Homo sapiens: one gene and its partner. The protein of the gene in region 2 purifies or fractionates together with the protein of the main gene of each other region. This does not show direct contact. Each region holds a gene or a part of one and is shown on either strand. Other genes may lie near its edges.

The links.
Region 1: the proteins of TLR8 (region 2) and RNF216 purify together in Homo sapiens (affinity purification with western blotting, with the first as the bait; one study listed by BioGRID). This does not show direct contact.

The regions. Positions count from the first base shown.
Region 1 is NC_000007.14:5,736,583-5,740,238, forward strand, and holds part of RNF216 (E3 ubiquitin-protein ligase RNF216), read right to left. Parts: intron 2,771-3,656; coding exon 2,694-2,770; intron 1-2,693.
Region 2 is NC_000023.11:12,913,076-12,916,731, reverse strand, and holds part of TLR8 (toll-like receptor 8 isoform 2 precursor), read right to left. Parts: intron 1-3,656.

The DNA of each region.
Region 1 (3,656 bases), on a different chromosome or scaffold from region 2:
CGTCTGGGATATGAGGAGCCCCTCTGCCCGGCTGCCCAGTCTGGGAAGTGAGGAGCGCCTCTTCCCGGCCACCATCCCTTCTAGGAAGTGAGGAGCGTCTCTGCCGGGCCACCCATCATCTGAGACGTGGGGAGCGCCTCTGCCCCGCCGCCCCATCTGGGATGTGAGGAGCGCCTCTGCCAGGCTGCGACCCCATCTGGGAGGTGAGCAGCGTCTCTGCCCGGCCGCCCCGTCTGAGAAGTGAGGAGCCCCTCCGCCCCGCAGCCACCCCATCTGAGAAGTGAGGAGCCCCTCCGCCCGGCAGCCGCCCCGTCCGGGAAGTGAGGAGCCCCTCCGCCCGGCAGCCGCCCCGTCCGGGAGGTGGGGAGCACCTCTGCCCGGCTGCCCCTTCTGGGAAGTGAGGAGCCCCTCTGCCCGGCCGCCACCCCGTCTGGGAGGTGTTCCCAACAGCTTATTGAGAACGGGCCATGATGACGATGACAGCTGTGTCGAATAGAAAAGGGGGAAATGTGGGGAAAAGATAGAGAAATCAGATTGTTGCTGTGTCTGTGTAGAAAGAAGTAGACATAGGAGACTCCATTTTGTTCTGTACTAAGAAAAATTCTTCCGCCTTGGGATGCTGTTGATCTATTACCTTACCCCCAACCCAGTGCTCTCTGAAACATGTGCTGTGTCCACTCAGGGTTAAATGGAATAAGGGCGGTGCAAGATGTGCTGTGTTAAACACATGCTTGAAGGCAGCATGCTTGTTAAGAGTCATCACCACTCCCTAATCTCAAGTACCCAGGGACACAAACACTGCGGAAGACCCCAGGGTCCTCTGCCTAGGAAAACCAGAGACCTTTGTTCACTTGTTTATCTGCTGACCTTCCCTCCACTATTGTCCTGTGACCCTGCCTAATCCCCCTCTGCGAGAAACAACCAAGAATGATCAATTAAAAATAATAATAATAATAATAATAATAAATAAATAAATATAAATCTGATGACAGTGGTTGCCTCTGTACAGAGGTGGGATCAGACAAGGCCACTAATGGCTCCAACAGTGTCATTGTACAAATTAGAAAAAAGTACCTACATTGGGCTAAGCACCTGGAAAGGGGCCCTTCCTTCTCAGCCTTGGCAGGGAAGAAACTCACCTGCAACCTTGACTGAGAACTACAGTATAAGATAGGAACTTTGGGGAAAGGTGTTTAGTGAACTATTTTGTTTAAATTTACCACCAGGCTGAGCACGGTGGCTTATGGCTGTAATCCCAGCACTTTGAGAGGTGGAGGTGAGCAGATCATGAGGTCAGGGTTTCAAGACCAGCCTGACCAACATGATGAAACCCTGTCTCTACTAAAAATACAAAAATTAGCCGGACAGGGTGGAGTACGCCTGTAATGCCAGCTACTCAGGAGACTGAGCAGGAGAACTGCTTGAACCTGGGAGGTGGAGACTGCTGTTTAAGCCAAGATCGCACCACTGCACTCTAGCCTGGGCAACAGAATAAGACTGTCTCCAAAAAAAAAAAAAAAAAAAAAAAAAAAAAATTACAATTATTTCACCTCTGCAGATTAGAAGGAGGGGAAAGAGTATATTTTTCATTTTATATTCTTCAGGAAAACTTATTTTTTAAAAAAGCATATTTACCACTTATAAAAAATTTTTTTAAAATAAGAGACAAGGTCCCACTCTGGCTCCCAGGCTGGAGTGCAGTAGCGTAACACAGCTCACTGCAGCCTTGAATTCCTGGACTCAGGCAATCCTCTTGCCTCAGCCTCCCAAAGTGCCAGAATTAAAGGTGTGAACCATATGTCTGGCCCGTATTTATCCCTTTTATAATGAAAATTAAGAAATATGGCTGGGAGCGGTGGCTCACACCTGTAATCCCAGCACTTTGGGAGGCCGAGGCGGGTGGATCACGAGGTCAGGAGATCGAGACCATCCTGGCTAACATGGTGAAACCCCATCTCTACTAAAAATACACAAAATTAGCCAGGCGTGCTGGCAGGCGCCTGTAGTCCCAGCTACTCGGGAGGCTGAGGCAGGAGAATGGCCTGAACCTGGGAGGCGGAGCTTGCAGTGAGCCGAGATCGCACCACTGGACTCCAGTCTGGGAGACAGAGTGAGACTCCGTCTCAAAAAAAAAAAAAAAAAAAAAAAAATGCTTCCATGTATTTCTCCAAACAGAGTGGTTGCAGAACATTTTGTTACAATCGTAGGGAAGAAAATGTCTTAACATCTTGACTAAAACACAGGTAGTATCAACGCTTAGAAACAACTCAGTTATCATAATTCTATAACCATGCAGTATTCCATAAAATCCAGAAAACAGTCTGTGTATCACTAATGTCAGAACGAACAAGGTCATTAAAAAAGACATAATGCCAAGTGAAATAAGCCAGTCAGAAAAGAACAAACACATGAGGTCCCTGATAGTAGCCAAATCCATATAGAAAGAAAGTAGGATGGTGGGTGCCACTGGCTTGGGAAGGGGATGGGGAGTGAGTGTTTAATGCGGACAGAGTTTCAGTTTGAGAAGATGAAAGAGTTCTGAAGATGGATGGTGGTGATAGTTGCATAATAATGTGAATTTACTTAACAACACCAAATTGTATATTTAAAAATGATTAAAATGGTAAATTTTTTATTACATATATTTTACCACCACCACCACCACCACAAAAAAAGCATGGTAGTATACTTACACATTCAGATCATAATAATTCTTAAAATGAATTATTTCCTCAATAAACCCATTTGCTACATCTGGAAATCTTGCTTCCTAGAAACAAATAAGAACATAATTTATATTTCATTCACTAGAATGGTTTCAAATGGCAATACAAGACAGATGGCAAAAAGTATAATAAAATGACTAAAGACTAGAAAAGGGCTGTGAAGCAGGTCTGTGTGTGTCTTCAAATTCAACACTAGTTCCCAGATTCATCTGTCTACATAGAAGATGAGGTCTAGAAAGGTCTTGAGAGATCTGGTTCTCTGTCCCCATTTTACAGATCCATTCTTCATTGCTTCAACAAATATTGAGCATCTCTGTCTAGACAAAGGGAATCCAAACACAAATAAGTTACAATCTCATGCCAGCCCTCAAGCAGCACACAACCTAGTGCCTAGATAAAAACACCTGGGTGGCCGGGTGCAGTGGCTCATGCCTATAATCGAAGCACTTTGGGAGGTCGAGGCAGGCGGATCACCTGAGGTCAGGAGTTCAAAACCAGCCTGGCCAACATGGTGAAACCCCGTCTCTACTAAAAAAATACAAAAATTAGCCAGACGTGGTGGTATGTGCCTGTGATCCCAGCTACTCGGGAGGCAGAGACAGAAGAATCGCTTGAACCCAGGAGGCGGAGGTTGCAGTGAGCTGAGATCGCACCACTGTACCCCAGCCTGGGTGACAGAGTGAGACTCGGTCTCAAAAAAAAAACAAACCAAAAACAAAACAAAAAAAACCCGCCTGGGTAAAGTAGGGTTAACGGACTTGTTTGAAGGCAAATAGTGGCTACCAGATGTAACACCTTTTTTTTTTTTTTTTTTTTTTTTTTTTTTTTTTTTTTGTGAGATAGAGTCTCACTCTGTCGCCCAGGCTGGAGTGCAGTGGCACGATCCTGACTCACTGCAAGCTCTGCCTCCTGGGTTCACACCATTCTCCT
Region 2 (3,656 bases):
TGCCCAGATTCTAACTTACAGAAATTAAGGCCAATCAATGGGCATTCTTTGAAGCCTCTACATTTGGGAGCGATTTGTTCTGCAGTAATAGAAAACTAATATATCTAGATGCTATGAATTCTAAGATGATTTATGGCTTGAAAACATGGAGCTCCTGCAGAGGCAGCCACAGGTCTCCAGGCTTCACATCTGTACCGGGAGACACAGGCACACCAAAGGAAGGGGCAACGGGGCTCAGACATGCAAGGCACTTTGAGGGAGACGCCACAGGCAATGCTATATTTGTTCAGGCACCTGAGCAGATCTCAGCCTGTGTGATTTCCAAGTTCCAACATTGCTAGATTTCAAAGTCACTTTCCGGACTCATCCCTGCCTTGATTAGCTAGTGGGTGGCCTGGGAAGTCTGTTCGATTACACTCACAATATATGAATTGGCTCCCAGTCTCATGGGTACAACAGATATGACTTAAACACAACATTACAAGGTTTACACTGTGATAAAAAAGAAGTGCATGACACTGTAAGAGCCTAAGAAGAGGGGACTTTGGCCTAGTCAAGGCAACTGGGGAAGATTTCCATAAAGAAGTGGAACCTAGGCCGAGGCGGGCCGATCACCTGAGGTCGGGAGTTCGAGACCAGCCTGGCCAACATAGAGAAACACTGTCTCTACTAAAAATACAAAATTAGCTGGGCGTGGTGGTGCATGACTATAATCCCAGCTACTCAGGAGGTTGAGGCAGGAGAATCACTTGAACCCAGGAGGCAGAGGTTGTGGTGAGCCAGGATCACACCATTGCACTCCAGCCTGGGCAACAAGAGTGAAACTCCGTCTCAAAAAGAAAAAAAAAAAAGGAGTGAAACCTGAACTGCAATCCTAAGGTTGAGTAGGCATGTGTAAGGCACAACCAAGATGTCAAAGGAATTTTTCAGGAAAAGGGAGCAGCATGTGCAAAGGCCCTGTGTCTATTCCCGTGAGTTTCCCAGGCTGTACCTCCAGAGAAGCCCTGGGACAGGAATTCAGAGAGATATGGTGTGGGTCTAAGACAAGGCACATCAGCTTTCATGTTTGCCATGGTAGGACTGCTTGCCACAGTGGGGCCCAGAGGACTGGAATGGCACAGAGGAAGTGGCTAATGGAGATGTCGTTGAGGTTCTCAGTATCTCCATGTCACTATGTTCTGTGGACATTTTTCAGTCCTCATCTTACTAAGCACATAAGTTTAAGAGACTGAGAGAAAGCCAGGGACTTGAGTAAAGACCAGAGTGGACCAGGCACAGTGGCTCACGCCTGTAATCCCAGCAGTTTGGGAAGCTGAGGCAGGTGGATCACTGGAGCTCAGGAGTTGGACACCAGACTGGGCCATGTGGCGAGATCCCATCTCTACAAAAAATACAAAAACAAATAGCGGGGCATGGTGGCTCATGCTTGTGGTCCCAGCTACTTGGGAGGCTGAGACTGGAGAATCGCCTGAGACTGGGAGGTGGAGGCTGCAGTGAGCCATGATTGCGCACTGCACTCTAGCATGGGGGACAGAGACCACCCGTCTCAAAAAAGGAAAAAAAGGCCAGAGTAGGTTTAAAAAATATTAATTAAATTGACAACTAAAAAGTGTATGCATTTATGATGTACAACATGATGTTTCGAAATATGTATACATGTAGAATGCCTCAGTCAAGCTAATTCACATATGCATTACCTCATATACTTATCATTTTTTGGTCATGAGAACACTTAAAATGGACTCTCTTAGTGATTTTCAAGTGTATAATATGTTGTTATTAACTATAGTCACCATATTGTACAATAGAGTTCTTCAATAGAACTTTTTCCTCCTGCCTAACTGAAATTTTGTGTCCTATTACCAACGTCTCCCCAATCTCTTCATCTGAGAAGTGATGTGAGCCTTTGAAGGTTTTTAAGCAGGGTGGCACCATGTTTAGATTGATTCTACAGTGTTCACTGGCAAGAGGGCACAGAACTTCAGTCATGAGATGATGGGAGTTTGAACTAGGGTGGTGGCAATAGAGATAGAAAAGAACGCGTTCAAGAGATATTTGGGAGGTACATTTGAGAGACATAGCAATGGATGAATAAAGGGAGGTAGAGGTTGTGAGGGAGAGGGATGCAATCAGAGTGACTTCTAGGTTCCTGGTCTGTGCACCTGGAGGGATGGGTGTCATTCACTGAGCAGGAAGATTGTTTGGGGTAGGGCTACTAGTAATTAAATTTGACAGGTTTGCTTTTGAGTTGAGTTTGTGATATTCAAGTAGAGGTGTCCAGTAGGCAGCTGAGTATGTGGGTCTGAAGCTCAGAAGAGAGTTCTGACAGAGGAATGAATTTGGGATTCATGACAATTGAAGCCATGGGTATGAATGAGATCACTCAGGGCAGTGTAAGGCATAAAGGATCTTCCACACTTCAGTTTTATGAACAATTTTCTCATCTTTTTCCTAGTAATTTTTTATGATTTCATTTTCTTATCCCACTGGAATTGTTTAGGTATAAAATGTGAGGTGTAGACCCACATTATTTTTTTCTAAATGGAGACCCATTTACCCTAACGTTATTAATTGGATGGTCTTTTGCTCACTGATTTTATAGGCTTCCTGTATCACATACTAACTCTTCTGTTATTTGGATCTATTTCTAGGCTTTTTGCTCTGTTTCATCAATATGTTAGTATTTAATACATACTTGGTATAAATATGTAACAGGTATATGCATTAATGAAAAGACAAATAACCCAATAGAAAAATTGAAAAAATATATTAACAGACAGTTCACATAAAAAGGAAACATAAATTGCTCTTAAAGCATAGGAAAAGATACTCAACCTCACTCAAAAATTACACTGTCATACCATTTTTCACTGATTCTGTTAGGCAGTTGAGGATATGGGGAAACAAACACTCTTAAATTTTGCTGGCAGGAATCTAAATTAACACCACCTCTAAGATGGAGGGTAATGTGTAATATCTATCACAATTGGAAACATATACTTGGAGTTGGCAATTTCAATTCTAGAAGTAGATCCTAAAGACACACCCTCATATATGCAAATGTCTGTATACAAGGATGTTCATTGCAAAGGCTGTTAGCAATAGCAAAAGACCGGAAATAATCTAAATGCCTATGAGTAGTAGTCTGGGTAAATAAACGATATTATGTTCACACAATGAAATACCATGTGGCAATTAAACGGATAAGGCAATGCTATATTCATTCATTCATTAAATATTTATTAGGCAGATATTTTATTTCAGGAACTGTATTTGAGTTGCAGATAAAACAATGAACAAACCAGGCTAAAATACTTGCCCATTTTGAAAGATAGAATGTTAGATGGTGGAAAGTATTGTGGAGAAAAATATAACTGGGAAGGGAAATGGTTATGTAGAATGTCCCTGGGCGGGGACTTATCTGATGCTTTTGTTATGATTAGATCGAGCTGATGAGTCTAGGGGAGGAAGATCACAGAAGTGCAGGGCCATTCTAGCCATATCATATGAAGGGTGCATGCTATCAACATGACTTTCACTATTTATGTGTACCTTGATCATCTGACTGAGGTAGTGTTTGTCAGGTCCTTATTATAATTTTTAACTACAGATTAACACAAATTATTTTTTTAAAAAGGCCCAAGGAGAATATGTCA